Linked DNA regions of Homo sapiens: all the other regions are reported to be linked to region 2. Evidence: microRNA targets listed by miRTarBase, many of them from high-throughput screens and not tested one by one. Region 2 holds a microRNA gene; each other region holds the end of a gene's coding sequence.

Region 1 (7,707 bases), not on the chromosome of region 2:
CAAACTTTGAAATGGATCAAACCAGAATTCCTTCTTCAGTCCCAGTTGCCTGATTCTAACTTTCTTCATCCGGTATTATTTTCTCTCTGTTAACAGGACTTGGTGGCACAAAATACATCTCCTTTGAGGAACGGCAGTGGCATAACGACTGCTTTAACTGTAAGAAGTGCTCCCTCTCACTGGTGGGGCGTGGCTTCCTCACAGAGAGGGACGACATCCTGTGCCCCGACTGTGGGAAAGACATCTGAATTCAACACAGAGAAGTTGCTGCTTGTGATCTCACACACAGATTTTTATGTTTTCTTTCTCACCCAGGCAATCTTGCCTTCTGGTTTCTTCCAGCCACATTGAGACTTTCTTCTAGTGCTTTTCAGTGATACTCACGTTTGCTTAAACCCTTTAGTGCTTTGTGATAGTTCAGTCCCAGGGAAAGAGAAAACTCGCCCTAGGCCCTAGGTGGGAAGATGGTTTGAAATTTTTGTAATCGAGTAAGGCACACCCAAATGTAAAAATCCTTTTGAATGATGCCTTTATAAATCTTTCTCTCACTGTCTATTTAAGTGCAATTAACATATGTCACGAACTTGAAAGTTTTCTAAACTCAATAAGGTAATGACCAGTTGTTATTTACAGCTCTGTAACCTCCCGTTGCGTCAAGTCTAAACCAAGATTATGTGACTTGCAATAAAGTTATTCAGAACAGAATCTTTTGCCAGGCACAGAGTGTGAAATCATGATTACAGGTCGAGGCACTGAGTCTAAGTAACACTTTATTGCATGGTCCCATGGTCACTGTATGAAGTGCAGTTCCAATGTTCCAATGGCCTGGGGCATTGCCAACTGGAACAGCATCACACCCTTTAAAGGAAGCCTTCGGCTGGGCACGGTGGCTCACGCCTGTAATCCCAGCACTTTGGGAGGCCAAGGCGGGTGGATCATGAGGTCAGGAGATCAAGACCATCCTGGCTAACATGGTGAAACCCCGTCTCTACGAAAAATACAAAAAATTAGCCGGGTGTGGTGGTGAGCGCCTGTAGTCCCAGCTACTCGGGAGGCTGAGGCAGGAGAATGGCATGAACCCGGGAGGCAGAGCTTGCAGTGAGCTGAGATGGCACCACTGAACTCCAGCCTGGAAGACAAAGAGACTCCGTCTCAAAAAAAAAAAGCCTTCAGTCAGCACCAGGCACCTCTTCCTTGCTACCTTCTCTCCCTTTTTTTTTTTTTTTTTTGAGACAGAGTCTCGCTCTGTCGCCCAGGCTAAAGTGCAATGGCACAATCTCAGCTCACTGCAACCTCCACTTCCCGCGTTCAAGCGATTCTCCTGCCCTCAGCCTCCTGAGTAGCTGGGATTACAGGCACCCACCATTATGCCCGGCTAATTTTTGTATTTTTAGTAGAGATGGGGTTTCACCATGTTAGGCTGGTCTTGAACTCCTGACCTCAGGTGATCCACCTGCCTCGGTCCCCCAAAGTGCTGGGATTATAGGCATGAGCCACCGCACCCAGCTACCTTCTCTGTCTTTCCCATACTCTTTCTCTTGGAATGTAATCCTCTGCATTTGACACAGTAACATAAACTGACAGTGAAGCCAATTTTCAGGTCATTTTTCTTGGCAGAGCTTATCGGCTCTGTCCCAGTGTTATGGATCCACATCTTACACCGACTTCCATAAAGTGAAAGATTGCACAAGGACATAAGCAACTTGAGGCCAGAGACGACATCCTGTTCATCTTTATGTTCTCAACACCCTCGCAACTGAGGGCACACTGGGAGCCTTCAGTGTTTCTGAAAAGGGCAGTAAAGCAGGAGAGACACACAGTCATTACAGTAAAAATAACATTCTGAGCTACTAGTGTGGCAGTAGTCTGTGGAATAATCTCAGATAGCAGTATACAGTTGGGAAGCACGGAGCCAATGTATGGGATAGAACATTGCACAGTTCTCTTTAGAATGGGAGCATCAGTGACCTTTTTGTCCTTAGTTTTCTAAGACAATGCAATATAATAAAATGATAGGCTGAGCAACAGAAAAATTTGGTGGAAATCAAGTCTGATATATGCTGAGCATATGTGAAATCAGTTTCTTAATCTGAGTGTTAGTCACTGTTAGAATGTTTGATAATGTCTGGAATGAGTCTTTTGGTTTTATAGTTGACTTGAGGTTTTGCTTAAAAAGAATAATTTCATCCTTTGTTAGTTGTTTTGCTGTTTTCTACTTCATAATATAAAAGTAAAAGCACTCCAAATTTCATTTTGGAACATCTTACTTGTTCCTCATTAAAACCATAGACTCTCCCAACCTTAAATTACCCATTCTAAAATTAATGGTTAGGGGGAATTCCACTTCTAGTAAATAGCTCCAATTGGACTAATTCTCCTCCAAATTAACAGTCATTCTGGACAAAATATTTATTTAATTGTTAAGAACACTGGAGCACGATCCAAAGCAGGCAGATATTGGAGGGCAGTAGACACTTGGAAGAAGAGAACGACACTGGGTGATTTTCCTGTTTCGGCCTTTTATCCAATGGCAGGCCCCCGCCAGGGATCTAAAACTCTGTTAGGAAACCTGCAGTCTTACTGGCCTGAGGAACCAGAGGCCAGAGTTCGGGACAAACAGCCTCTGGAAAGTGAGGAAGAAAATCCTGAAAAGGAGAGCCCCAAGTTCGTCGCATGAACTTAGAAATTTCTGGCTGACAACTGAACCGTGTATACTTAGGCCAGACTCCAAGCAGCCCAGCCAAGGCTAAAAGCATTGACTGACAGGACTTTACAGATAGTGGTTTGCAGGGCTTAGCTGACCGACCCTCTTCCTACTGAAGGAAATTACTTGTATATAAACCACACAACACAAAGTCTCTGAAAATTTCCCCAGAAGCATACAACAAATAAACATTCATTCAGGAAAATCCACTACTAAGTCTTAGAAAGAACAGTGAGTCTGTGGCATTTGAGCCACAGCCTCATCCTATCCCATCCCCACTCCCCAGCTTCATGTGACAAACTCTATTCTGGACCAATGCAGCCAAAAATTAAGGGGTCTCTCTTCCTCCAGCTACCAGTCTAGGGCTTTGCCCCAGGTGCGACAGGCTGAGAATCGTAGAGCTCCAATTGCCCCTACCCTAGCCTGCTTAGTGCGGAGGCTCCACATTGGGAGGGGCAATCTGAGAAGACCAGCGGCTATCAACCCACTCACAGAGAAGGGATGTCAGTCCTGGAGAAGCAGGCTGCTGTCCAGCCCCCAGAGGAGATCCAGGCTCTGAGACTGGTAACCCAGCAGTTATGCCCAAGGGGACTGGTATTTGGTACGGAGAACGAGAAATCTTTGCCTAAGGGGATTGTCAAAAACAATAAGACATCTTACCAGTGAGCCATTAAGGAAGGGGCTGGTAACTCCATGCTATTAGTAGCAAAAAGCAAAATGACAGACCAGCCAGAAGTTTAACACAGAAAACCAGAGAAAGAGATAGCCAAGAAGAGCCCTCCTGGAATCTGGTTTATCCTTGAGGTTCGGGAAGTATGTATGGACAGGGCTGTATCCACTCAGGAGCAATCAGATGTGAAACAAACTTGAAAGCATTCTCTAAGGCATACACAGATCCATCAGCAAAGAGCAGAAATCTTATTAGCTCAAAGTGCTTAAGCAGAACCTCTGACCAAACACTGGCTGAACACATAAATGTGTTTGTTCAAAGAACTAAAGGAAATCATATTTAAAAAAGGAAGGTAAAGGAACAATTACAGTTGTTCCTCCATATCCATGGATTCCTCATCTGTGGATTCAACCAACTGTGGATCAAAAGTATTTAGGAAAAAAAAAAAAAAGTTGACACAGTTCCAAAAAGCAAAACTTGGATCTTCCACATGCTGAGTACTATGTTGAATCCATGCAAATGAAGTGATGTGTAAGCATTGTATTAGGTATTATTATAAGTAATCTAGAGATTTATTTAAAGTATACAGAATGATGTGAATAGGTTATATGCAAATTCTATGCCATTTTATATGAGACTTGAGCATCCATGGAGTTTGGTATTTGTAGGGGGTCCTGGAATTAATCCCCCACAGATACCAAGAGATGACTTTACTCACCAAACAAACCAATAAAGAGATAAAAATTATTTTTAATAAATCAAATGGAATTCTGAAGTTGAAAAGTATACTAAATGAAATGAAAAATTCACTAGAGGGGCTCAGTAGTAGATTTGAGTTAGGAGAAGAAAACCAGTGAACTTGAAGACGGAACAACAGAAATTATACAATCTGAAAAACAGAAAAAAGAGTGAAGAGAAATTAAAAGAGCCTCAGAGAAATGTGAGAAACCATTAAGCATACCAACATATGTGTAATGGAAGGACTAGAAGGCTAGGAGAGAGAAAAAAAGAACAGGAGAAAATATTTTTTCAGAGTTCATGACTAGTCAGGTGCAGTGGCATGCGCCTGTTGTCCCAGCTACTCAGGAGGCTGAGGTGAGAGAATTGCTTGAGTCTAGGAGTTTGAGGCTGCAGTGTGAGAAAACAGCACCTGTGAACAGCCACTGCACTCCAGCCTGTACAACATAGTGAGACCTTCTTAAAAAAGAAAAAGAAAAAAAGAGTTAATGGTTGAAAAAGGCCCCAAATTTGATGAAAAATATTAATCTACATATTCAAGAAGCTCAATAAACTCAAAGTAAGATAAATGCAGAGACCATACCCAGACACATTACATTCAAAATGCTGAATGCCAAAGATAATGAGAAAACTCTGGCTAGATGTAAAATAATATAGCTATATAATTAAGACTTTTTATTAAATTGGGAAATTAAACATACATATACAAAAGTACACAAAGCAAATGTCAACAGGCAAAACTAAACCAATGAGATGTTGGAATATTCTGTATCAGGGGTTGTAAACTATGGTCCCTGGGCTAAATTCTGCCCACTGCCTGTTTTCTTTCCTATTTTATTTTTTTGAGACAGGATCTCGCTCTGTTTCCCAGGCTGGAGTGCAGTGGCATGATCACAGCTCACTGTAACCTTGAACTTCTGGGCTCAAGTGATCTTCCCACCTCAGCCTCTCAAGTAGCTAGGGCTACAGGCACGCACCACCATGCCTGGCTGTGTGTGTGTGCCTGTGTGTTTTGTTGTTGTCATTTTGAGACAGAGTTTTGCTCTGTCGCCCAGGCTGTAGTGCAGTGGCATGATCCTGGCTCACTGTAACCTCCGCCTCCTAGGTTCAAGTGATTCTCCTGCCTCAGCCTCCTGAGTAGCTGGGATTACAGGCGCCTGCCACCACGCCCAGCTCATTTTTGTATTTCTAGTAGAGACAGGGTTTCACCACGTTGGCCAGGCTCGTCTTGAACTCCTGACCTCAGGTGATCCACCCATCTCGACCTCCCAAAAGTGCTGGGATTACAGGTGTGAGCCACAACACCTGGCTGATGTCTATTTTTAAAATTTTTTTTGTAGAGATGAGGTCTCACTATGTTGCCTAGGCTGGTCTCAAACTCCTGGGCTCAAGCGATTCCCCCCATCTTGGCATTCCAAAACGCTGGGATTACCAGCATGAGTCATCACACCTGGTCTGTTTTCTTAACAAAAAAGTTTTATTCAAACACAGCCATGTATGTTCATTTACGCATTGGTTTGCTGGCAATTTTTTACTATCTGGACCTTTACAGAAAAACCTGCCACCTGTGCTGTACTGTGTATCTTGATCTGGGTAGTGATACACACACACACACACACACACACACACACACACACACACACACACAAAATTTTTTCTCCTGAGCTATATAACTTAGAACTTTTCTAACTTTACAGCATTTTATTGTAACTCAGTAAAAATTTTAAAAGTTTAAAATATGTTACACTTTGAACTTGAGTGCACTTGAGTACACTCTGAGTTACTTTAAAGCTTGTCTTTTTTTTCATTAAACAGCAAGCCAACTTGTTTGATCTTTACTTGATTATTACAATATGTGAAACCTTTGGGGGTCAGTCTCTACTGCCTGATGTTTCTGTTGCAGCCCACACTGGGTCCACTGTTTTCTTGTATGCAAGGATAACTCTGACTTGTGTTAATCACTACCTTTAAAAAGTTATCCGGGGTGTTTCTTGAGACTTAGAATAAGGATGTCTTCCTGCAGAGACGATTGTCATTGTCTTTACCAGACACATGGGCTACCACCAGACTAGAACTACTTCCCAGTCATTTCCAGAGTTACTTTCACCTTCCTGGGGATGTAAATCTTAGCTACAAGTCTGTATGAGAGTCGGCTTGCCTGCCTCCACCCCACTGTGTCCCCTTTCCCTTTCCTATTCTTCCTTCCTTCTTTTCCTTCTTTTTCTTCCCTCCCTCCATGCATGAAAAGGAAAGATGTATTTCTAATTCACACTTATATGTGGTGGTGTTTTTTGAGGTCATACCTATTAGGTTCCCCTCTTGGAACACTCAGAGATTTGACTTCTCTCTCCCTTACATTACAGTCACCTAAACTACAGCTGAGTTTCAACAGAGCATCAAACAAGATTGCCTGCTTCTCTGGGTTCTTGCTGTCTCTTAGCCTGTCAGCTCTTCTGTGCTTTTATGTTTGAAAAACCCATGTTTTTTCCCAGCAGAATTGCTCCTTCCATTTAACAGCAAGCATTTTTCTCTGTTTAGCAAATGAAAAACCTAATTATAAATATTGTATTAGTTACCTCTACTTTGTTACACATTCTACAATGTTAAGATTTACGTTGATCACATCTATTTCATTGGCTTAAGGTTTAATTTAAATGCACAACTACCTTGTAGAATAAATTACATACTTAAACTTTGTGATAATATTTAATATTTAGGATATTATAAAATTCTTTTTTAATTTTTTTTTTTTGAGATGGAGTTTTGCTGTTGTCGCCCAGGCTGGAGTGCAATGGTGCGATCAGGGCTCACTGCAACCTCTGCCTCCAGGGTTCAGTTGAGTCTTTTGCTTCAGCCTCCCGAATAGCTGGGATTACAGGCACCTGCTACCATTCCTGGCTGACCTTTTGTATTTTCAATAGTGACGGGGTTTCACCATGTTGGCCAGGCTGGTCTCGAACTCCTGACCTCAAGTTACCAGCCCACCTCGGCCTCCCACAGTGCTGGGATTACAGGCGTGAGCCACCACACCTGGCCAGGGTATAATAAAATGCTTAATAGAACTAGTCTACCCTCAACCGGAACAATGAAAATTTAGTCACTGAAGTAAGTCAAAGAAACAGTTTCACTGATGAGGGAATCATTCTACATGAACCATAAACAAGGCAAGAAACTCATTAAATATATCTGCTGTGGTGCAATGTGCCCTGGAACTACAATGGTTACTACTCCCTCAATATTGCCCTTAGTGAAAGCTTTATCTCTGGAAAAACTTTAGAGAAATGCCTGCAAAAGAACTCAGTGGTGTTAATAGAGCAGAACTTTAGAAACTAGCAAAGAAAACCTTGTGATCACAAAAATGAAGCCCGAGGTATATGTATTGAACATTGTTGACTTGCTACAACTAGACACTATCCAATTTGTAAGCAGAGGGCTGCCCTCAAGTCTTTAAGTCAGCACAATAAATAAACCCTAACTCCTTTGGACAAGACTTTGTAAAACTAGTTATATTAAAGCAAAATAAAAGTTATATTAACTTGCATATCACTTAATCATATTACTTTAGAAACTTAAAATATATACTCAATTCTCAATC
Region 2 (7,949 bases):
AATCTAATATATTGAAGAACAACACCACAGAAAATGTAACTTTTAGTTGGAAAATGTAACAGACATTATCTACTGAGATTCTCTGCTAATGCCTCATATTCAATATGTCCAAAACACCTCCTACTTCTCCTCTAAACCAGCACCTCCTTCTGCTTGGAGCCAGTCAAGAGTTGAGTCTTCAGAGTCATGTGTTACTCCTTATTTTCAATCATTTGCCACATTCAGTAGAGTCTAGCTCTACAGTTTGAATAACTTCTCTTTACTGTTATTTTTCACACTACTAATCTCCTGAATGGATCCTTCAAACTTCTTGTCTAGGCACTAAAATCAGCCTTTTAATGATTTCCCCCACATTTAACTTCTCATTTTCCTTTGACCTCTCATCTTTCCTTCTCAAAAGATTCAAAGACTCCTTATCCCTCATAAATTCAAGATATGATACTCTGCCTAGCACTCAGGGTCATCTATATCGTGGCCAGTTTAATCCCCTGAAAAATTCCTTGAACAGAACCTGTATTTTCACAGGCCTACCCTTTTCATGAAATCATCCCCACCCATAAAATCCATTTAAAGTGCCACCCCCTTTTCTGACTCTCTGAATACAGCGTCATCTTTTCTTCTGTGAATGTCATCCCCTTGCATTTTCTAACTGTTCAATAGTCCTAATAATATTATAGATATATGGCAATTGTCTTACACCTTCTTTTTTCACTAACTTTGTAGATTGTCTTATCCCTTCTTTCACCACCAACTTTGCTCCATTTTTAAGCTCTTGTTGAGCCAGATCTGTTCTAATTATCTTTGTATTTCCAAAACATATCAGTGCAATTCCTCAGTCGTGCTGAAAAATAATTATCATATTTGATGGCAAGCAACTACTTGAAATTTATTGTTTCTTCACTGTTTGTCTTAGTAGATACTTCTCCAAATACAGTATAGAATTACAATGAATTGAATTCCAAGGATCTCGGACAGCTGAATTAAATTTTGGAGTGTGTCACTTTTCAAAATGATGAGATGAATGAATTCTTATAATCCTGGGTTGTCTATTGAGACTTGCATTCTGTGTGCTAATCTTGGGGTTCACATTTTGGGATCTGAAGTTGTCTATGTGAGGATAGTCTATAGTGGCAGTGGGATAAACTCAATTAGCAGGTAATTTTTAATAGCTATATGCTCTGGTATAATTCTTGAATTATAGAGATGGCTTCACATTTTGCATTGAGAGCAATTGGAAAAATAGTTAATGGCTCTGACATCAAGAAAATCTGAGTTTTATATGACTGTTCCTTAATTGAGGGCAAAGGACGCAAGGGCTAAATCTCTGCCTGGAAGTGAAGCTCAAAAATGCCTTTGTTTATCAGGCTGTGCTTCAACCTCCCAGACTCACCGAAATGGAGGGAGGGGCAAGGGTATTTACAGCAATTGGAAGGGCCTTATTCACCCCCTGAATTCACACTCAGCTAAACTTAGAAATGCAATTGGTTTATTTTGTATAAATAAGCAAGAATGCTGGAAGAAACTAAATATCTTCATAAAACAAAACATTATGATACCAGAAACCCTAAGGAATAGCACTAATGCTTTTAAATGAAGGTTTTATTTGTCTCTGAGCTGCAAAAAGGAGTCACTAATGAGATGTCATTTAAATTCTAACACCTGTTTAATGGCAGTTTTTCTCTATCCCCAAAGAGTAACTGTTTATGAATGTTTGCAGTTTTCCAAGTGTATCTACAAGAATTGTTTTTTCATAAACAGTGTGATGCCTTTTTCCTCATAGGCTTCATTCACCGTTACAACATATGATGAAAATTGTTGGTTGTGGCATTTTTGTATTACATGGGTTTCAAAGATAGCGTTCATTTCAAACACTGAAACTTAAAATTTTATAATTTACATAGTACATATTTATGAGAAACTTTATGTTTTACAGATGTTTGAGTGTATACTGGTATAAGAAAAATAAAATTTCTATATATATTGTTTACTAAATTTAAGTAAGATTGAAAAGACATTGGTGAAAATGTGTTTGCTCTTATATTCCCTCTTATGAAAAGAAGTATATTCATAAACAAACATACATGCACACAGATTTCTAAGATTTGCAGAAAAGAAATGCTTGTTGACTTTTTTCTCAGACAAGTAAATAACTGAAAAGGCAACAAATCAGATTGTACCATTCCTATTGTGATTTTATGTTTTTCTTATATAAACAATTTCTTATTTGTGAAAAGAATCCACAACAACTCTGTTACCACTTTTCTCAAAAACGATTGTAGTGATTAACAGACACTATAAGGATGAATATATAAAAATTACTTACCATTGGAAATATTTTCCTTAGGATGTGTCCCATTTGGTATTTATAAGATTTTATCCAGCTTGCTTTCATGATTAGCATACTTTAATAAAAATAAGTATACTTCAGTGAAATAAATAACCTATAAATGTATTTAAGTCAATTACCTCTGTCTTGAGAAATTCATGTGTAATTAATTTCTTTGAGATAGCAGAGACCTTAGGCCATGGATTTTACCAAAATGATTATATGAAATCTCCAAAATGCTGGCATCTAGGAAAGCTGCAGGGAACTTTTAAGAATGTACATCTTTGACCTAATAAGAGTCATACTTTTGCTCTGTTGGCATTCTGGATGTGTGACAAAGCAATCCTTGTTTGTGTTAGGAAAGCAGGAACTCGTTTTGATGGAAGGTGAGACTGGGCCTGTGTATGAAATATTCTATAGAACTCTTTAGGATTTAAGCTGAGCACACCAGGCTTACTGAAAAAGAGAATGGCTAAGCCATAAAATGCTCAAAGTGTGGACTTGAACAGTTCTATAAAACCTAAATGTTCTGCACATTAAAGGAGAAAAGGAGAAAATTGTTGCAGATGTGATTGGATTTCCCATTATGCTAAAAACTACTCTAAATTTCTTCCTCATGATCATTATTCCTTAGATTCCTTAGTACCAAATTATTTCCTCTCCTCTCCTCTCAAGATTCCCCCATGAGATTCTTGCCAATTTAAGGTGCTCTTTTGAATGAACATAAAGACTGGATGTTTTTCAGTTTTTAAAAATGCTTTTCTTATTTTTCTGTCTCTCTCCCTCCCTCCCCATCTCATATATGTAAAAACATACATACCTAAATACACATACATACACACACATATAAAACATTAAAGAATTGAAGCATATCAATTTGCTCCTGGTTTATACAATTTTTATTTATAGGTGGGATCTCAGTGCTTAATCCGTGTGTTCTAATTACCCACTGGATTTGTTCACGATCGGTTGACATACACCTTGCAGTAAGCCTAGAGAAATAAGCATATTCTTTTTTCTGTGCAGTTCTTGTCTTGACTTATGAAAGCCAAATATCCATTCTGTATGGGGAGATGAATCAGCAATCCATATAATATCTATTCATCATACATATTTCACAAGGAGGATATTGTGGTGACTGCAGAATTCTACAAAAATAATATGGAAATCCGGAACTTGATGTGGAGTGTCAGAGAGCCTCTTACTATTATTTACCTTATCAGCTTTTGCTTTCTGAAATCAATGGAAGGGCATCAAGTTCAGCTAATCCATATTTCTGAGTATGAAATTGAATTTATAGTCTGTAGTATGTTGACTACCGCTCGCATTTAAGGCATAATTGATTTTTATTGAAAAGCCAGCAGGCACATCAAAAATTTCCACAAACCACAAGGATGTTAAATTTTACCCTGTTTAGATAATAGTGTGGCTTTATTTATCCTTTAAAATGAAGGTTTTATATTTATATCAGCAAATGCTATGGAAGTGTGACTGATACCTTACGAAACCATCAATCCATGGTTCTGTAAAACTGTATGCACAGAAATAAGCAACTTTATATTTCTAAGGTAAATGTCTATGGTTGGTTTGTTTTAAGGATAAATGGATAAATGGAATAATAAATCTAGCATCATATCATGTCATGTGCAAAGTTATTTTTCCGTTGAAACAACAGCTTTCACCATTATTTCTTTTCTTTCCCATATTCCTTCTGCATCTCCTTTTTTCCTCTGCTTTACAAATTATATTTTTTTGTGCATGTCTGGATAAATGGTTTATGTGTATAGAATGTAATTCCTAAGAAAAAGTCTATTCTTCTATTTTAAAGTTAAGTAGTCAAACATATCATGTGTGATACTCCATTAAGTAAGTTTCACTCAAATGTTCCTAATACATGTGCTAAGTTCATTTATTTTTAACTAAAAGTTATGATGAGAAGACTCTTTTGAGTGTTGCTGCCACAAATATGTAAATTCAATGTCAGTTGCATGATGGATTTTTTAAAGTGAAGCTCTGCCTCACTTTAGTAAAGGGAAAACGAAATAAAAACAAAAAGGTACAGGTACCATTATTTGTTATAATTCTCCTTCTTTGTAATCTTATCACAGTGATTCTCACGGAGTGGGAGGAGTATCACACCCTAAAGAAAACCTTGGAAACTTGCAGGGATGTATTAGGTTTTTATAAAAATTGCATGGTGTGGAGCCAGGGCCACCACTGACTCCTGGGTGGAGTCAAGGGATGATAGACATTTGCAGCTTGCTTGCGGGAGGCTCTCATTGAAAAACTCTCCTATGCTCACAGAACTTTTGAGTATCCTATCAGACATTCATGTGGTTGAAAAACCTATGTAATATTATCCACACTTTGATTTTATTTTCATTTACATGGAATTAGAAGATTTTTTACATTGTTTAATATGTAATGAACTTTTCAGAAATCAAACTCTCTCATAAATTAATTGGAAATTGTTATTTCGAAGTTTACCAATTGTTGTTCATTGATGGCAACTCTATGGTGTTTGCTGCATCAATACAACAATCTTACTTTAGTTTGCATTAGTGGCTGATGCCTTTGCAAATTTATCATGATTCTGTGCACATGTATCAGCACTTGACTTCATGTCTTCATTATGTGGCAGTGCTAGAATATTTACATTTCAAAATATATACTATTTTATTAATATTACAAAGTTGTTTCTTTTTATTTCTTTTATTTTATAGTTGGGGCATTGTATTGACTTTTTCTATGATATTCTTGAAGTGGTTATAATATCTATGAATTTCATTTTGTTATAGTAAACGGGTTACAAAGTATTTGTTATAAAAAGGAGGAACTGGATCAGATAAAGTTGAGAACAATTGCCTCACGGCATCAAGACATGAATGCATTAGTTGAAAATTCTTCAGTGATAAATCCAGAGATTATTTTAATAGAACAATTATTTCCAATGAGGAAAATAGTATCTCAGGGATTTTTAAATATGCAGTGATAAGCCCTTAGTGCCTACTTTCTTATGTGTATGGATGAAGAGTGTTCAAAACAATTTGTCATATGCACAGAAATACAAAAGATGAAACCTAAAGAGATTATACATTAGTCTCTTAAGAGTAAAACTGACGGAGAGAAGCAGTATACCTTTCACAGAGGCAGATATTTTCAAAGCAATGTGTGACAGGTACAGGGACAAATCCCGTTAATAAGTAAGAGGATTTGTGCTTGGCTCTGTCACATGCCACTTTGAAAACCTACCCTCAAACTGTCTATAAATTTTCATGCCCATCTTTTTCTCCTTACTCTTTCCAGAGCATCTGATTGTTTTTGTTCACCAGTGTTTTTTTTCTCCTGCTTTATCTCATGGCATCCTTTAATAATTTTTAAGAGTTTTGTATATGTACTATGATTTTGTGGCTATGTTATTGTTAACAAAATATTTGCTGCATCCATTCATTTTCACTGGCCATCAACTGCTTCATTATAGGAGATTTGTTTACCTCTTATGACTTCCGAATATGTAAAAAAAAAATCACAGAAATTGAGGAGAGAAGTAACATTTATTATGTTGGTTAGTTTTTCCTTTTAATATGTAGTTAGGTTTTTTTAAGGAAAAAGAATATACACTATCTGGAAAGAAAAAGAGGTTTTTCTTTTTAGTTGTGAATTTTTGAAAACCCAATTATTAAGCCTAGAGGTCTTTAACTTTTATAAAATGGACTCAAAACAAATTTCAATCCTAAAGACTGATGGGCCACCTCTGTTTCTTATTTTGGTGCCTCATCACATGTGAGTTTGCTGATATTAGAAGAGGGACACAAGTATTTGGTAGAACATCTTCTGGTCTCTAAGTTGGTCCTGGTTTGATGCAGCACTCTTTTTCACCCTGCCAAAGATGATTTGCTCCCTGGAAGTAAATATTTATTAACTTGCTGTCAAAGTGAATATGGAAATTTTGCTAGTAGGAATTATATTCTTACTTTAAATTTCTATATTATTTTAAGAGGATGCATTAATGAAAAAACATAGTCCATGAAATGTGTTCTAATGTAGGCAGTTCCAAATAAAAATCATTTCTCTATGGAATTTCTGTTTTTCTCTCTCAAGAACACTAATGGTGCCTACAACCTATTGAATAGGAAGTGTTTTCCAGAGGACTAGCAATATACATCTGACATCATTTTCTTTGCGCATCTAAGTATAGACCTAGGCTGTCCTTCCACAGAATCCAACAGCTGGATAAAAAGTAAAAAACAAAGCAGATCTGCCAGATGGTTTATCTACATTAAATCTAACATCTGTATATTTTTTAAACATTTAGATGATTGGCTTATATTACATCTGCATACTTTTTGGCATTTCTTTGATCATAAATGTGTGTGTGTGTGTGTGTGTGTGTGTGTGTGTGTGTGTGTGTATGTTAAAGAGAAAAGATGCTACTGAGTCAGATAAAACTAACCAGAAAACAGAGCAATGGCCTTTGAATTTCTGTATATTTCTCTGAATGTCCATATCCAAACTCAAGGACCAGATAGCTCAAGTTCAAATTACAGAAATTTTTTGAAAGTTAGAGACAAACTGTGAGAGACAGGATAGTTTCTTATGGTATTCAGCTCCGTAATGTCATTGAATACATAGACTTGACTCTCTGGAAGGAATTCAGAGACCACCTGGCTAGAATCAATTAATTTAGACTTTAGTCATTTTACCTGTGTTAGCAAAGAAAAAAGTCAAAATAATAAATAATATGTTTTTGAAATTCAAGTGTTTTTTTTTGTTTGTTTTTTTGTTTTTGGTTTTTTTTTCCCTTAGAGATGGGTTTAAACAGATGTATGTAGAGTTGAGCCCTCAACATAAAATGTCACTTATCTCTTTGGAACCAAAATCTGAGAATGCCACACAAGCAAGTGCATACTGTAGTGATTGTTCATTTAATGAGTAACAAAAATTTACATTTGTAAGGGCTTTTGAAATTTTAAAGCTCCTTCGTAGTCATGGTCTCATTATCCCCACTTGATACTAAAAACCTTTCTGGAACCCAGATCTTCTCATTCTTTTTTTTGATTTGGGTTTTGGCTTTTGGAATTTTTTGTTTTGTTTTGTTTTTTGGAGACAGTCTTGCTGTTTCGCCCAGGCTGGAGTGCCATGGTGCGATCATGGCTCACTGCGGCCTCAACCTCATGAGCTCAATCAGTCCTTCCACCTCAGACTCTCAAGAGGCTGGGACAACAGGTGTGTGCCACCACACCTGGCTAATTTTTGTATTTTTTGTAGAGGTGGGCTTTCACCCTGTTGCCAGTCTCAAACTCCTGGGCTCAAGCAATCCACCGACTTTGGCCTCCCAAAGTGCTGGGATCATAGGTGTGAGCCACCACGCCCAACCCTCATTCTTTATTTGATGCAATTCCATTATTCCATGAGCAGAGAAGAAAATGAGAAAGAAAGGGACATTTGTAGAGCAAATCCAGTGTTATATGTGTTATATCAGGGGATTTGACATCTATCACTTTATTTAATTCTTACCACTACTTCTGGAATAGAAAATATAGAAACCAAATTTGCTTTACCTCTGACAAATTGGGTTTGAATTCTGCCTCTGCCATACATAGTGGCTAGCTGTGCATCTTTA
Region 3 (7,949 bases), not on the chromosome of region 2:
CTCCTCCCCCTCTAAGCCCAGGTTCCCAGGGCCCCAGGCTGAGCTGGGGTGAGGGGAGGGCAGCCCCTGGCCCCCTCACTCCCCCAACACCCCCACACGCTGGCCCAGCTGGAACCAGAAAGCTTGAGTATAGGGGGAGAGGCTGACGCAGGGGCTCAGTAAATAAATGAGAGGCTGAGGATGCCTGTGCCTGGGTGACCAAGCTGTTTCCATTCAGGCCGAATCGGAGGTCTTCATATGTCAGGCCATGTAGAATGCCACACCATTTTTGTATGTGCACCTAGGGTCTCAGCATGTCAGAATGTGTGTACGTGTGGCAAGGGAGTCATCTGCAAGCCAGCATAGGTCCACGGTGAGGTGAAGGGACAAACAGCTTGGCAGAGAGTGCACTCTTGCATGGGGTTGGGGGTGGGGGAGGCGCATGCGCGCGTCTGTGGGGCAAGAAAGGAGTGGGCATGAGGGTGTTCCCGTGCATGGCGAGCAGCTGGGCTGAGACTGCTCCCGGGTGTGATGGGGCTGCTGTGTCCAGATTTGGGTCTCTGAGTCTCTGGGAAGCGACCTCACCCCACAGCCCCGAGCCCCAACTTGAGGGTCACAGAGCTCGGCAGGCAGGCTTTTCCCACCCCCTGACTCTCAGCCCCATGGGGCCTGGGGCAGCCGTCAACTGCGCCTTCTCCCCTCCTCCGCCCCCAACCTTAGAGCCCCCCACCCCACTGCTTCCTGCTCTAGCGGCCCCCGGGGAAGAGGGAGCAGGGAGCTGGCAGCCGCCCCAGCCCACTCCTTACAAGGCCTGAGCCCGGCCCCAGGCCCGCCCCCGGCCCGCCCGCAGGAGGCCCCAGGCCCTCCCCCTGTCAAGAGCTGCCGCCAGCCCGGGGCCGGACCAGTCCGGGGGCATCGCGATGCTGCTGCGCCTGTTGCTGGCCTGGGCGGCCGCAGGGCCCACACTGGGCCAGGACCCCTGGGCTGCTGAGCCCCGTGCCGCCTGCGGCCCCAGCAGCTGCTACGCTCTCTTCCCACGGCGCCGCACCTTCCTGGAGGCCTGGCGGGCCTGCCGCGAGCTGGGGGGCGACCTGGCCACTCCTCGGACCCCCGAGGAGGCCCAGCGTGTGGACAGCCTGGTGGGTGCGGGCCCAGCCAGCCGGCTGCTGTGGATCGGGCTGCAGCGGCAGGCCCGGCAATGCCAGCTGCAGCGCCCACTGCGCGGCTTCACGTGGACCACAGGGGACCAGGACACGGCTTTCACCAACTGGGCCCAGCCAGCCTCTGGAGGCCCCTGCCCGGCCCAGCGCTGTGTGGCCCTGGAGGCAAGTGGCGAGCACCGCTGGCTGGAGGGCTCGTGCACGCTGGCTGTCGACGGCTACCTGTGCCAGTTTGGCTTCGAGGGCGCCTGCCCGGCGCTGCAAGATGAGGCGGGCCAGGCCGGCCCAGCCGTGTATACCACGCCCTTCCACCTGGTCTCCACAGAGTTTGAGTGGCTGCCCTTCGGCTCTGTGGCCGCTGTGCAGTGCCAGGCTGGCAGGGGAGCCTCTCTGCTCTGCGTGAAGCAGCCTGAGGGAGGTGTGGGCTGGTCACGGGCTGGGCCCCTGTGCCTGGGGACTGGCTGCAGCCCTGACAACGGGGGCTGCGAACACGAATGTGTGGAGGAGGTGGATGGTCACGTGTCCTGCCGCTGCACTGAGGGCTTCCGGCTGGCAGCAGACGGGCGCAGTTGCGAGGACCCCTGTGCCCAGGCTCCGTGCGAGCAGCAGTGTGAGCCCGGTGGGCCACAAGGCTACAGCTGCCACTGTCGCCTGGGTTTCCGGCCAGCGGAGGATGATCCGCACCGCTGTGTGGACACAGATGAGTGCCAGATTGCCGGTGTGTGCCAGCAGATGTGTGTCAACTACGTTGGTGGCTTCGAGTGTTATTGTAGCGAGGGACATGAGCTGGAGGCTGATGGCATCAGCTGCAGCCCTGCAGGGGCCATGGGTGCCCAGGCTTCCCAGGACCTCGGAGATGAGTTGCTGGATGACGGGGAGGATGAGGAAGATGAAGACGAGGCCTGGAAGGCCTTCAACGGTGGCTGGACGGAGATGCCTGGGATCCTGTGGATGGAGCCTACGCAGCCGCCTGACTTTGCCCTGGCCTATAGACCGAGCTTCCCAGAGGACAGAGAGCCACAGATACCCTACCCGGAGCCCACCTGGCCACCCCCGCTCAGTGCCCCCAGGGTCCCCTACCACTCCTCAGTGCTCTCCGTCACCCGGCCTGTGGTGGTCTCTGCCACGCATCCCACACTGCCTTCTGCCCACCAGCCTCCTGTGATCCCTGCCACACACCCAGCTTTGTCCCGTGACCACCAGATCCCCGTGATCGCAGCCAACTATCCAGATCTGCCTTCTGCCTACCAACCCGGTATTCTCTCTGTCTCTCATTCAGCACAGCCTCCTGCCCACCAGCCCCCTATGATCTCAACCAAATATCCGGAGCTCTTCCCTGCCCACCAGTCCCCCATGTTTCCAGACACCCGGGTCGCTGGCACCCAGACCACCACTCATTTGCCTGGAATCCCACCTAACCATGCCCCTCTGGTCACCACCCTCGGTGCCCAGCTACCCCCTCAAGCCCCAGATGCCCTTGTCCTCAGAACCCAGGCCACCCAGCTTCCCATTATCCCAACTGCCCAGCCCTCTCTGACCACCACCTCCAGGTCCCCTGTGTCTCCTGCCCATCAAATCTCTGTGCCTGCTGCCACCCAGCCCGCAGCCCTCCCCACCCTCCTGCCCTCTCAGAGCCCCACTAACCAGACCTCACCCATCAGCCCTACACATCCCCATTCCAAAGCCCCCCAAATCCCAAGGGAAGATGGCCCCAGTCCCAAGTTGGCCCTGTGGCTGCCCTCACCAGCTCCCACAGCAGCCCCAACAGCCCTGGGGGAGGCTGGTCTTGCCGAGCACAGCCAGAGGGATGACCGGTGGCTGCTGGTGGCACTCCTGGTGCCAACGTGTGTCTTTTTGGTGGTCCTGCTTGCACTGGGCATCGTGTACTGCACCCGCTGTGGCCCCCATGCACCCAACAAGCGCATCACTGACTGCTATCGCTGGGTCATCCATGCTGGGAGCAAGAGCCCAACAGAACCCATGCCCCCCAGGGGCAGCCTCACAGGGGTGCAGACCTGCAGAACCAGCGTGTGATGGGGTGCAGACCCCCCTCATGGAGTATGGGGCGCTGGACACATGGCCGGGGCTGCACCAGGGACCCATGGGGGCTGCCCAGCTGGACAGATGGCTTCCTGCTCCCCAGGCCCAGCCAGGGTCCTCTCTCAACCACTAGACTTGGCTCTCAGGAACTCTGCTTCCTGGCCCAGCGCTCGTGACCAAGGATACACCAAAGCCCTTAAGACCTCAGGGGGCGGGTGCTGGGGTCTTCTCCAATAAATGGGGTGTCAACCTTACCCAAGGCTTCTGACCCCCACTGGTGCTTAAGGGAGGTTCTGGGAGGACTCAGCAAAAAGGAGGGGATCTTCCTTCAGTTTGTCTGAGTCCTCAAAGAGATAAGGTAAGATCCCTTTAAGGGAGGGTATGCCTCAGAGATTCTCAGGGAAGCAGGAGCCCAGAGAGGGCAGAGCCTTGCCCAAGGTCACACAGTTGAGCCCAGCAGTGGGAGGTTTGGCATGGGGAGAATTTCATATTTATTCCTTATTTTACCAAAGCTCCAAGAAGGTGGGGCTGAATCTGGGGGACGGTTGTGGAATTAGGGCATCTGCTGAACCGGACTGGGGTTTAGGGGTCAAAGTAGGCTCTGGGGCTGGTGATTCAGAGGAGTGAAGGAGGGGTCTAGTGGGTGAGTTGCTCCTTTCTTCAGACACTTCCCTTCCCATCCCTGTAAGCTTCGCGGAAGTTGGGGGCTGGGGCTCAGGGTAACTCAAGGGGACTGCCAACCCCTGGTTTGTGGGTGCTCTTGGAGGCATTCCTCCGCTTGCTCCGGGGAGGAGGCTGGGATGGGAAAGGCCGGGAACCTGGGAGAGATCCCATGCTAACTGCTTGGACAGCCGCAGGAGCAAGGCCTCCTTTTGCCAGGGCCGCACGTTGCTCTTGTCCATGTTGGCTGGGGGTGGTGGGGGACAGACAGAGCTCAGCAGACCTGAGCTTGAGCGAGGGCTCCGGCTGCTCAGGACTGAAGTGTCCCAGGAACTGGAGGGCCTGGTCAAAGATCACAGCCTGGTGGGAGTGACCTCCCTCATTTCGTGCTCACTGCCTTGGGGGGCGGGGGTGAGACCTGGGGAGGGGAGGCGCCAGTTCCCACCGCCTCTGTAATTTTTCAGTTACAGCCTCTTGGGGGCCTCTAATTAGGACGGGGCAGAGCCGCCACGACCACCCGGGCAGGCGAGGAGGAGTGGCCCAGCGCCCCCTTCGGGCCTGGACCTGAGCTGGAAGGCTGAGCTGGGCCCCAGGGAACCAGGAAAGGAGGGGCCGGAGCTGGGGATGAACCAGGGGGTCGCGGAGGGGGCGGAGGGAACGCTACGCACCGCCCCCGGTCCCCGCTCTCACGTTCCCCTAACTCAAACCAGACGTCCCCGCCAGATCCTGCACAGCTTTAACCTCGGAGACGCCGTCGGGCAGGTTTGCTGGATGCCAATGAGGGTTGCGAGGCGGCCCAGACGGCTGAGTCTGGGAAGGAGGTGAGGAAGCCTGGGGAGCGACAAGGCCTGCAGAGACGGGATGGTCTGGAGTCCCCTCCGTGACCTCGGGTAGGGATCTAGAGCGCCTCGAGGGCAGGAAACAGTTAAATACACTGCAGTCGGAGGCGGGGGATGGGAGTGGGGAAGGGGGCCCAGAGCCGGCTCTTTGTCATCTGGTAATGAGCACCAGATGCGGAGCTGCGTGCGGGCCTAAACAGACGGCCTCCCAGGGCAGAGCCCCGGCCTGCGCCCAGCCCGGGCTCAGCCCACTTACTCGCAGGCCCCGCCTCATTCGGGCGCGGCGGCGAACTGCATACTCCAGCGGTATCAGCCCGGACCTGGGAGCTACGAGCCACGCCTACTCGCTGCAGAACAGAAGAGAGCCCCCGGGAGCTCTCCAGAGGCCCCGCCCACAAAGCCACAAGCCCCGCCCCTGCCAACTCAAAGATTCCAGCAGCGATTGTGCCCGCCCCCTGCCCTCTTGGCCCCGCCCAGTCCCCCGCCCACAACCTACAAGCCCCACCTCCTCCGCTCGGCGCGCGCAGATTGGCGGAACTATTAGTCTCGGCTTCTAGGAGGTATGAACTTCGCCCCGAGTTTACACATTCTCTTCACGCGGCGCTACAGGCCCCGCCCAACACAACTGCAAGCTTCGCCTCACAGAGCCCTGGACACTGCAGGGAATCCCTCAGAGGTCTTAACTCTGTTGGGGGATGATGTAAACTCCGCCCTCCAGGGAAACGTGTGAAGTTCCCCTCAACCTCCTCTTCAGGCTCCGTCCCCAGCTACAAGCTCCGCCCCCTCTCAAGCTCACAAAAGTGGAAGAACTGCGCCCTCGTAGGACTGTCACACCTCACACATCGAGCGGAGGTAGCGGTTCACCTACACGGAGCCCCGCCCCCGGGGCCGCCCACGAAAGATGCAAGCCACGCCCCTGGGGGCCCTGGAGTCCCGCCCACCCAGAGCGCCCTGGCTGCGGCGTAGCGCACAAATACGGCTCTGCGAAGAGCGCTACCGAGCGAGCCTCTTATCGCACGCCCCGCCCACACTCAGGCTCACCCTCTTGGCGCAAGCACCGCCCACTCCACCCCTGGGTCCCTTACCACCTTCGCGATATGCCCAGATCCACCAGTCCTCCGAACCCCTCATCTCTCACCACGATGCCCTTGAACCTGGCCCTGGAGCCCTCTTCTTCCTCCACCTACGGTTTCCGTTTGTCCAGATTTCGGGTTCTCTGGGCGAGCCCGGAGACTGGGCCCGGACAGCCGGGCAGATGGCGTCGATGGGCCTTTGGCGCCACCTGGCCTCGGCCCCACGGACTTACAGCCACCGCGAGGCCTCGGTAGGGCCTCTCTCTCAAAGCGTACTAATTGCTCAGTAAATAGAAATAGCTGCTTAATTCGTTAAATGTTAGTGTTACTTAAATATCTGCCGACTCCCCCCACGGGACAGCCCATCCTTTCGCAGATGCCTTTCGTCGTATGTGGAAATTCGTCCCTAAGGGAGCTTCGCACTGGCCCTCGAGCCACCCTATGAGCTGAGCGCCCCTGACAATCTCTAAAGTGGCTGGCTGGTCGAACTCTTGCTGTCTCTCCCCGACAAATCCTTTCGCCTGGAGGGCGAAAGCATCGCCTCTCATCTGGCGGCCTAGAATTCCTAGGACCAGGTTTCCCCCGCCCCCACCTAGTGCTCCAAAGGCTAGACACCTTCCCTGGGGGCTGTGTTGCGAAGGGGTGGGTTTGGGCGGGGAAGCCCTCAATTAGGAGCTGAAGGTCGTAGTTTTTAGGGACAGTGTCTCAAGGGAGACCCTATCTCAGCTCTCATCTCTACCTCTGAAAATAACAGCCTGGAGGGCAGGAGACGCTGAAGTTCAGGGCTAGGAACCCAGTAAAATATTTTTCAAACATTAGTGGGACAGACAGGGAGCAACCCTTGAGGAGGAAGGGAGTTGACACCACTGAGCTCCAGTTGGGCCCTTTGCTTCCTGCCTTAGCTGCCAACCTTGCCCTTACCCACCTCCGGGCAAATCAGGCCTGGGGAGAGGGATACTTTCCAGACCAGGTTCCAATGCTCGTGCACTAGCCATTACAAATGTAAATAGGGTTTAGCGCTAAATACTGACGATAATAATAGTGAATGCTTGAAGCACTTCTGTTTTGTTTTTGTTTTTGTTTTTTGTTTTTGTTTTTGTTTTTTCGAGACGGAGTTTCTCTCTTGTTGCTCAGGCTGGAGTGCAATAGCGCCATCTCGGCTCACTGCAACCTCCGCCTCCCAGGTTCAAGCGATTCTCCTGCCGCAGCCTCCCAAGTAGCTGGGATTACAGGCACCCACAACCACGCCCGGCTAATTTTTGTATTTTTAATACAGACGGGGTTTCACTATGTTGGTCAGGCTGGTTTCGAACTCTTCGCCTCAGGTGATCCACCCACCTCAGCCTCCCGAAGTGCTGGGATTACAGGCATGAGCCACCATGCCCAGCCTTGAAGCACTTCTTACATGCCCGGTCCTTTTTTAAGGGCTTTACTTGGCTTAATCCATGTAAGATTCATAACAACCTCCAAGAAGTAAGTGCCGTTCTTACCACAATTTACAGAGTAGGAAGCTGAAGGCACTTGCCTAACTGCATTAAGCCATCTGCCCTAGTTGACCAACTAGTAAGTGGGGGTTTGAACCCAGGCAGATCCTGTGATCTTTACCCCCTACAGCAAAGCCAGTCCATATGTGATAGCCAAGTCTCTAATCAGAAAATGCCCACACCTGGCCAGACGCGGTGACTCACGCCTGTAATCCCAGCACTTCGGGAGGCTGAGGCGTGGGGAATGACTTAAGGTCAGGAGTTCGAGGCCAGCCTGGCCAACATGGCGAAACCATGTCTCTACTAAAAATACAAAAATTAGCCAGGCATGGTGAGGGTACCTGTAATCCCAGCTACTCAGGAGGCTGAGGCAGGAGAATCGCTTGAACCCAGAAGGTGGAGGTTGCAGTGAGCTGCACTCCAGCCTGGGTGACGAGTGAAACTCTGTTTAAAAAAAGAAAAGAAAAGAAAATGCCCACACCCTGGGAAACTCACTTTTAAGGGTGAGGCTGCAAGACGCAGACTCTCAGAGAGGCTGACGGCACTGAGATTGACCAGAGAGATTGAAGCCTTCTTCCCCCAAGGAGAGTTTGTCGTCTGTGGCTTTGGCAGGTGATGCTGGTAAATAAAGCATTTGCTGGGATCGTGGGATCTGGACCATGTGCCCAGGCGAGGTGCGGCCTTGGGGCATCTGTTGGCTCATGTGTTAGCCTG
Region 4 (7,949 bases), not on the chromosome of region 2:
TGGGAGAACAAGGCAGGTGGATCACTTGAGACCAGGAGTTCCAGATCAGCCTGGGCAACATGGCAAAACTCCATCTCTACAAGAAATACAAAAATTAGCCAGATGTGGTGGTGCATGCCTGTAGTCCCAGCTACTCAGGAGGCTGAGGTGGGAGAATTGCTTGAACCTGGGAGGTGGGGGTTGCAGTGAGCCATGAGCACTGCAGTGAGCTGGAGAGCACTGCACTCCAGTCTGAGGGACAGAGTGAGACTCTGTCTCCAAAAAAAAAAAAGCATTCTGACAACAAAATATATCTAAGAAAAGTGACATAAAATGCTGGAGACATGTTTTTTCCATATATAACAAAGGATTAGTATCAAGTATATACATAAAAAGGATTCTGCAAGTAAGAAATAAGAAAACAGTTCAACCGGAAAGTCAGCAAAATATATGACTAGGTGGATCTTAGAAGAGGAAATATATGTGGGCAATACACATGTGAAAAGATGTGTAACTTCGCTAGAAATTCGGGAAACACAAAATGAAATAATATTGAGGTAACTTTTTTGTCCATAAAATTATAAAAAATTTAAGTAATTGAGAATGGTGTTAAGTAGGGAGTAAGTTTTGTCATACACTGTTGGGAGTAAATTGGTACAACCACTTTGGAGGGCAATTTGAGAATACCAATTATAATTTTAAATGTATATATCCCTTAGCAATTTTTTCATATCTCTTTTTAAAAATTACTTGCATATATTCAAGAAAAGGCATCCAGAAGGATTTGTATTGCAGCATGATTTATACTAATGAAAAATTGGAAACAGCCTAAATATTAACACGGAAGTGATTAGCTAAACAGTGGTACATTCATATTGAGGCATTCCTTGTAAGCAATTCAAAATAGTTACATATGCTATAGAAAAGTCAAGACATTGTTAAATGGTTTTTAAATGTTTCAAATTAATGCTTGCAAAATGATGTGATCTGGGTAAAAAAAAATAAAAAATCTACAAAGCATCATGAATCTAAAACATTTGTTGCTCAAGAGTAATGTAGTAGTTTAAAATTGGTCTGTTTTTGCAACCAAACACATTTGACCTATTGATGGAACTTTTATTTTCCACAGGTGAGAAGCCTCTTCCTCTTAAAACAGCATTGCAAAAAAAGAGGAGTTACGGCAATGCATTTCATCATCCCAGTGCTGTACGATTACAAGAGAGTGATTCTTTAGCCACCAGCATTGATCCAAAAGAAGATCACAATTACAGTGCAAGTAGCATGGCAGCACAGCGTTGTGCATCCAGGTCTAGCGTGTCTTCCCTGTCTTCTGTGGATGAGGTATATGAATTTATCCCAAAGAATAGTCACGTGGGAAGTGATGGCAGTGAAGGATTTCACAGTGAAGAAGATACAGACGTTGATTATGAAGATGATCCTCTTGGAGACAGTGGCTATGCATCACAGCCTTGTGCAAAAATCTCTGAAAAAGGGCAGTCAGGCAAAAAGATGCGAAAACAGACATGTCAAGAAATTGATGAGGAGCTCAAAGAGGCAGCTGGATCTCTGCTCCACCTTGCTGGAATTCGTACATGTTTAGGTTCCCTAATAAGTACTGCAAAGACACAAAATCAAAAGCAACGGAAAAAATAGAAATACTTAAAGTGTGGCAATACTCTTTCACTTAATTCTTTACAAGGGATATCAAAGCCATAATGGACTTCATTAGTTTTAGGGTAGGGAAGGGATACTAATTACTTATTTCTTTCAAAACATTTTTGGTTTTTGGTTTTTAAAATTTTTATTAAACAATTGCTGTTAGGATCATGCCTGATCAGAAATACATGATGTGAAGTCCTAAAAGCATAATTTTTGTGATAAATGTGTCCAAGATTTGAAAATTTTTATATAAGAAAATCCCCAGCCTCTGTCTTAAACTTGTGGGACAAAAATCCTTTCTTCTGTTAATATGTCAGAATGTAAGATTTGGCAACTCGATAAATTTTTTTCATTTTCTTTTCCAATCTGTAACTATAGTTACTGAACCAGCTAAAAATTTTGCTGATGTATTTTTCATATACTTCTCTCCTGACACGCAATCCGGTAACATAAGATTGAAATTTTTTTACTTTGTCTTAATTTGTTTCTAATTTTTTTTTTGTTGTCGTGTGAGCAAAGACAAACATAAATTGAAAAACATCCTGATGTTTAGAAAGTTTCTTTTGGTTACGTAGGTAGAGAATACAACAAAGAGTTCTAAGACTTAGAAAAGACAATTTTGTGGTGTCATTTCATCCAAGAACACTCCCAATTCCTATTAGAATGGTAGCTTTGAAGTGTTTTTACTTCAGAGATCCTGCATAGCATTTATTGGGGCCTTTTATTCTTTCCCAAAGTGCTTTGCAAACATTAAGTTTTAGCCACTAGCTGCCTTTGTTGAGTATAAGTTATCCAGTGAGAGGATATAGCCAATTAAGTGTGTTATGGAGTACACCCATTTTGACACACTTGTAATAAGAGAATCTTTCATTTGCCTGCCATGTGTACTGTATTATGAGAATCTTATAATCGGAATGGAGTGAAATGAAACATTTTGAGTACTGATGGCATGTTATCATACATAAAGTAGGTCATTTAGGAAAAAACTTCTGTCCAAGCTTTGTATGAATTAAATTCATAAGTATACCAAATTAAATCTTAATAGATTTAATGCAATTTTACAGACACAATACCTTCATGAATTTCAAAATTCATATAAAATTTGATCTTATGCAATACACCTTTTTGAGGAGGCAGTGTAACAACCTATAGTGCCATTGATCCATGAGAAAAAGATTTTCTGGTACTACTCCAAAAGTGCTTTGACTAAGTATCTTAACTATTTGAACAGTCTGCTTATATGAGACAGTTTTTCATAGTATCATTTGTATAATTTGATTAGATTATTCAGAAACAATAGGATGCTAAACTAATTCATTGTATCTTTTTTTTACAATGGTGGAAGCAACTTTCTGAAAGTTCAGTCTTATGCTACATCCTAAGTCATAGACAATGACCTTGTTTTCATTATTCTGATAGATTGTATACATATGTACACATACATATACACATATGCACAGTCAAGGTCATGATGTTGATTTGCTTTCAGCTGTTTCTGTGATTATAAAGCATTTTTTAAGAGACAAATTTTAACTTTTAATTTTTATTTTGGCAAAACTGTCAAATGAGAAAAATGATTTTAAAAACTTTTTTTTCAATTGACAAGACTTTAAGTCAGGGATAACAGTATTAATGTTCTCTGTTCTGTTTCCATGTTAAATTTAATTTAACCTGGATAGCCACATTAATGAATTGGTGCTGTCAAAATATAGTAATTTTTAAATTTGTTAATAATGAAAACCCTTAAGCATGCAGGATGAGGTATTTGGGTTTTTTTTTTAGATCGATCACATCTACAGAAAATGGCTAAACCAAGTTAACTTTTATTATAGACAGTGAATAAAACACCAAAAACCCAAAAATGCTTTAACCACAGTATAAATAATAGATTATACACATCATCTTAATAACTATTTTTAAGTTATTTACCATAGCCTCTGTATAGACCTTAGGAACAGTGTTTCAGTGATCTGGCACCAGTTTATTTTGTTCTGCTGAAATTCTGTATCACAAATGTGCTACCTGGTTTTTGTCCATTAGATAATTACTCTTTATAAGGAAAGGAAAGAGAAGCAGAGTTAGTTCCAGCTCTAATAGGGATCTTCAAAGTTATTTTGTCTTGATGTATGTAACAGTAATTCTTTACATCTTTTGATTTTTCTCTTCCTTTTTATTCACTCTTCCCACGAATTTAAATGTTTAAGTTATATTCATCACTAGCAAGGATGATAAACACTTGTGCACTGAAAGCTAACAGGGAGAGGTTACACAATATTTTACAGTTTCTTAAACATAATTTAATGCATCACCTTCCACTTGCTAACATACCAAGTCAGTTATTTTCAAGGGAAGAACCTTTTAAATTATGGTCCTCCATTTACTACTTCCACTGAGAGTATGCTCTCATTCCTCAGGTGTTTTGAGAAACATGACTAATAACCACACAATTAAGTAGAGTCATTCCAAGTCCTATGGCCTGGAAATTGTATTCCCTATAATATACAAATTTTCCTGTAATAAAGTCAACTTAGAAACTCCAAGGAGGTTACATGTTTTCCAACATATCCTAAAAACTGTGATATAAGCTAACATATAATTTGCCTTACGTCAAAAGAATATGTTTTGTTGCAGCTGATTCCAGTTTATAATAGATCCCTAGTAAAAAGCTTTGATTCAACACAATTGTTCATCTTCACATCCCAAACAGAATCACTGTTTCTTGAATATATATTTTTGAAGTTTTTTTGTGCAATATATTACTAAATCAGTTATTATTTTACTTTTCCAAATTCAGAGAAAGAAAACAGATTACCTGAATTCATGGAAAAGGTGGATCACCTCCCTTTTTCCACCTTCAAGCCTTTCCTGTCCTCATAGCCAGCATGACTTCTTTTAACTTGGATTCCTTTGTATATAGTAAAGTTTAGTATATATATATTTTTTTCTTTTTGCTACTTTCTGAGGCATTATGTAAAGGGCTCATACTAGATGTTCAGTTAAATATACTTTAGCACAAAGTCAAACTAGAGAATGTGTTAAGGAGGGAATGTATATGTCTTGGTAGACCAGGAGGCCTTTGCCAGCAATTTAAGCAACAGATGTGAATACTTCACAAAGCTGTAAAGACCATTGTCTTAAATACTACAACAACTTAACACCCTTTTGTGAAGATCACAGCATTTATCTAAGAAACTGTGAGGCTTTCTGGTTTACATATATCTTACAGGTGTTTTTTTGTATTTTTTTTTTTTTTTAGTTTGAAATGTGTAAGCTTTGATTTAAACCAAGTTTACTTCAGTATGTTAATGATGTAGTAAAAATATTTATTGAAAGGTGAATTCGAGTATTTTAATGTTATACCTGCCATTTTTTTTCTTAAAGCATATTCTTTGCATCTAACTGCCAGTGCCATTGTCAAAACTTATTTTTTAAATCGTTGTACATTTCTTATTAAACTAAGTGCTTAATTTTAAAGTATTATGTTGCCATCATATAGTGTATAAAAATGTATAATTGCCAATTGATTGTAACTATTATTTATTTTTAAATGAAAGTGTAAGAATGCTTTCTGATTCAACAAATTTGTTATCAAACTGTTTCCTTATCCTCTTTTCTGATGTAGCATAAAAATTGTCCCGGTTTGAGTTATAACTGCCAGTAGATGACCAGTCACAAGTGAACCACTTCTCAGTTGCCAATCTTTGCTCATATTAAAAACAACTTACAAATACTTAGTTTTTGTATCTAATCTCTGATTATTAAAATGTTTATAAAGTTTATTTTTACCAAAGAGATGCAATTCATTATGAGAAAGTATTGCATAATAAATTTTGTTTTATAACTTTTTTTGTGCTTTCTCTGATCTTTTGTAGGATAGGGTGGGACAGGAGAAGGATGGTAGGGCAGATGTGATGGCTATACTTCTACACACACTTTCCATTCAAATTGGAGTCAAGGAAATGAAAAATGCAGTTTAATTTCAATTTTTTTAAAAGTATTTTTTATGGTTTTTAGATGTTAATTACTGAAAGCTAAAATGACATTAATTAAATTACTATCTTCCTAAAGTTAAACTTCTTTTCCTATTAATTTACATGTATCTGAAATATTTTGAAATATAACTGGGAAAAATGGAGTAGAATATGAAACGAGCCTGGCCAACATAATGAAACCCCGTCTCTACTAAAAATACGAAAATTAGCCAGGTATAGTGGCGAACGCCTGTAATCCCATCTACCCAGGAGGCTGAGGGATGAGAAATGCTTGAACCCAGGAGGCGGAGGTTGCAGTGACCTGAGATCCCACCACTGCACTCCAGCCTACACAACGGAGTGAGACTGCATCTCAAAAAAAAAAAAAAAAAAAAAAAAAAAAAAAAAAGTCATCAAGAGCTTTATGCCAATAAGTTCAACAACTTCGGTGAATTAAAATGCAACAATAAGAAAACCCAATCTAAAAATGGGCTAAATACCTGAACGGACACCTCACCAGAAAAGATAAACAGATCACACTCATTGATATTTACCCAAATGAGTTGAAAACATGTCTAAACAAAAACCTGCACACAATTGTTACAGCAGCGTTGTTCATAATTGCCAAAACTTGGAAGCAAATAAGATGTCTGTCAGTAGGCAAATGTATAAACTGGTACATCCAGACAGCAGACTATTATACAGCAATTTTTTTTAAAAGCTATCGACATCCCAAAGAAGATATACAAATGGCCAAAAAGAACATGAAAATATCCTCGACATCACTAATTACTAGGGAAATGCAAATAAAAATCACAATGAGATACCACCTCGTATCCATTAGAATGGCTACTATTAAAAGGTTAAAAACGCCACCAAAACTAAGTGACGAGTGTTGGCAAGGATTGGAACACTTGTGCAGCCACTATGGAAAGCAGTATGGAATTCAAAATAGTGCAGTCACTGAAAAGCAGTATGGAAGTTCCTCAAGAAATTAAAAATAGACCAGCAGATTTACTTCTGGGCACATACCCAAAAGAATTGAAAGCAGGTTCTCAAAGAGGTGTTTGTCTACCCATGTTTAGAGCAGCATTATTCACAATAGCCAAAAGGTGGAAGGTTCACAAATGTTCATCGATAGATGAATGAATAAAATATGGCACATGCAGACAATGGATTATTATTTCACCTCAAAAGGGAAGGGAATTTTGACGCAAGCTACAACATGGATGAAACTTGAGGACGTTATTCTGAGTGAAATAAGCCAGTCAGAAAAAGAAGGATACTGTATGGTACTTACAGTAGTCAAACTGATAGAGACAGAAAGTAGAAAGATGTTTGCCAGGGGCTGGAAGAAGAGGGGAATGAGAAGTTGTTTAATGGGCATGGAATTTGTGTTTTGCAAAATGAAAGAGTTCTAGAGATTGTTTTCACAACAGTGTGAATGTACTTAACACTATTGAACTGTACACACAAAAATAGTAAATGTTATATATATTTTACCACAAATAAGAAAAACAAAAAAATGAGATATCAAGCTATGATGGAAATTTAAACACATATTACTAAGTGAAAGAAGCCAATCTTTGACTTAGTTGAAAGGTTCACTTACTGAGCCTTAGAAGGCTCATTTCTGTGATTCCAACTACGATCTTGTATCGCTTAGCAACAGGAATACCTTCTGAGAAAAGTATCAGGCTGTTTTCTTACTGTGGGAACATCATAGGGTGTACTTACACAAACTTAGATGGTATGGCCTACGACACAACTAGACTATATAGTAGATAGCCTATAGCTCAGGCTACAAATCTATGCAACATGTTACTGTCCCAAATACTGTAGACAGTGGTAATGCAATGGTATTTGTGTATCTTAACCATATCTAAACATAGAAAAGGTACAGTAAAAACACAGTATAAAAGATAAAAAATGCTACACCTGTATAGGGCACTTACCATGAATGGAGCTTGCAGGACTGGAAGTTGCTCTGGGTGAGTCAGTGAGTGTGAGTGGTGAGTGAATGTGAAGGCCTAGGACATTACTGTACACTACTGTAGACTTTTTAAACACTGTACTCTTAGGCTATACTAAATTCATTTTAAAATTTTTTCTTCAACAATAAACATTAGCTTACTGTAACTTTATAAACTTTAATTTTTTTTAACTTTTTGACTCTTTTGTAATAACACAGCTTAAAACACAAACACGTTGTACAGCTGTACCAAAATATTTATTCTTCATATCTTATAAGCTTTGTTCTATTCAAATTTTTCTTTTTACTTTTTAAACATTTTTCTTAAAAACTAAGACACAAACACACACATTATCCTAGGCCCACAC

Evidence for each region. Region 2 holds the annotated microRNA hsa-miR-2113 (AUUUGUGCUUGGCUCUGUCAC, at 5,538-5,558, shown strand). A microRNA usually pairs through its seed, bases 2 to 8, with sites in the 3' UTR of a target mRNA and lowers its output. Matches are read on the target gene's strand: a 7mer-m8 pairs with bases 2 to 8, a 7mer-A1 pairs with bases 2 to 7 and ends in A, and an 8mer does both.
Region 1: miRTarBase lists FHL2 as a target of hsa-miR-2113. The part of its 3' UTR that is shown has no 7-base or 8-base seed match.
Region 3: miRTarBase lists CD248 as a target of hsa-miR-2113. The part of its 3' UTR that is shown has no 7-base or 8-base seed match.
Region 4: the mRNA of FOXN2 is a reported target of hsa-miR-2113. Seed matches in the 3' UTR shown: 7mer-m8 at 4,649-4,655.

What each region holds. Positions count from the first base shown.
Region 1 is chr2:105,353,824-105,361,530 of GRCh38, reverse strand. It overlaps FHL2 (four and a half LIM domains 2), which reads left to right. Exons shown (of 7, transcript NM_001318895.3): 7 at 97-705. The coding sequence ends at 248. It also overlaps a transcript of C2orf49 not described here. Among named protein-coding and RNA genes, the nearest start is that of C2orf49, 20 kb to the right of the region's middle.
Region 2 is chr6:98,019,049-98,026,997 of GRCh38, forward strand. It overlaps MIR2113 (microRNA 2113), which reads left to right and starts at 5,483; the gene lies at 5,483-5,573.
Region 3 is chr11:66,309,978-66,317,926 of GRCh38, reverse strand. It overlaps CD248 (CD248 molecule), which reads left to right and starts at 883. Exons shown (of 1, transcript NM_020404.3): 1 at 883-3,433. The coding sequence starts at 900. The coding sequence ends at 3,173. RefSeq lists silencers at 685-954, 5,477-5,726 and an enhancer at 1,438-2,134.
Region 4 is chr2:48,373,812-48,381,760 of GRCh38, forward strand. It overlaps FOXN2 (forkhead box N2), which reads left to right. Exons shown (of 7, transcript NM_002158.4): 7 at 1,109-5,484. The coding sequence ends at 1,632. Among named protein-coding and RNA genes, the nearest start is that of PPP1R21, 63 kb to the right of the region's middle.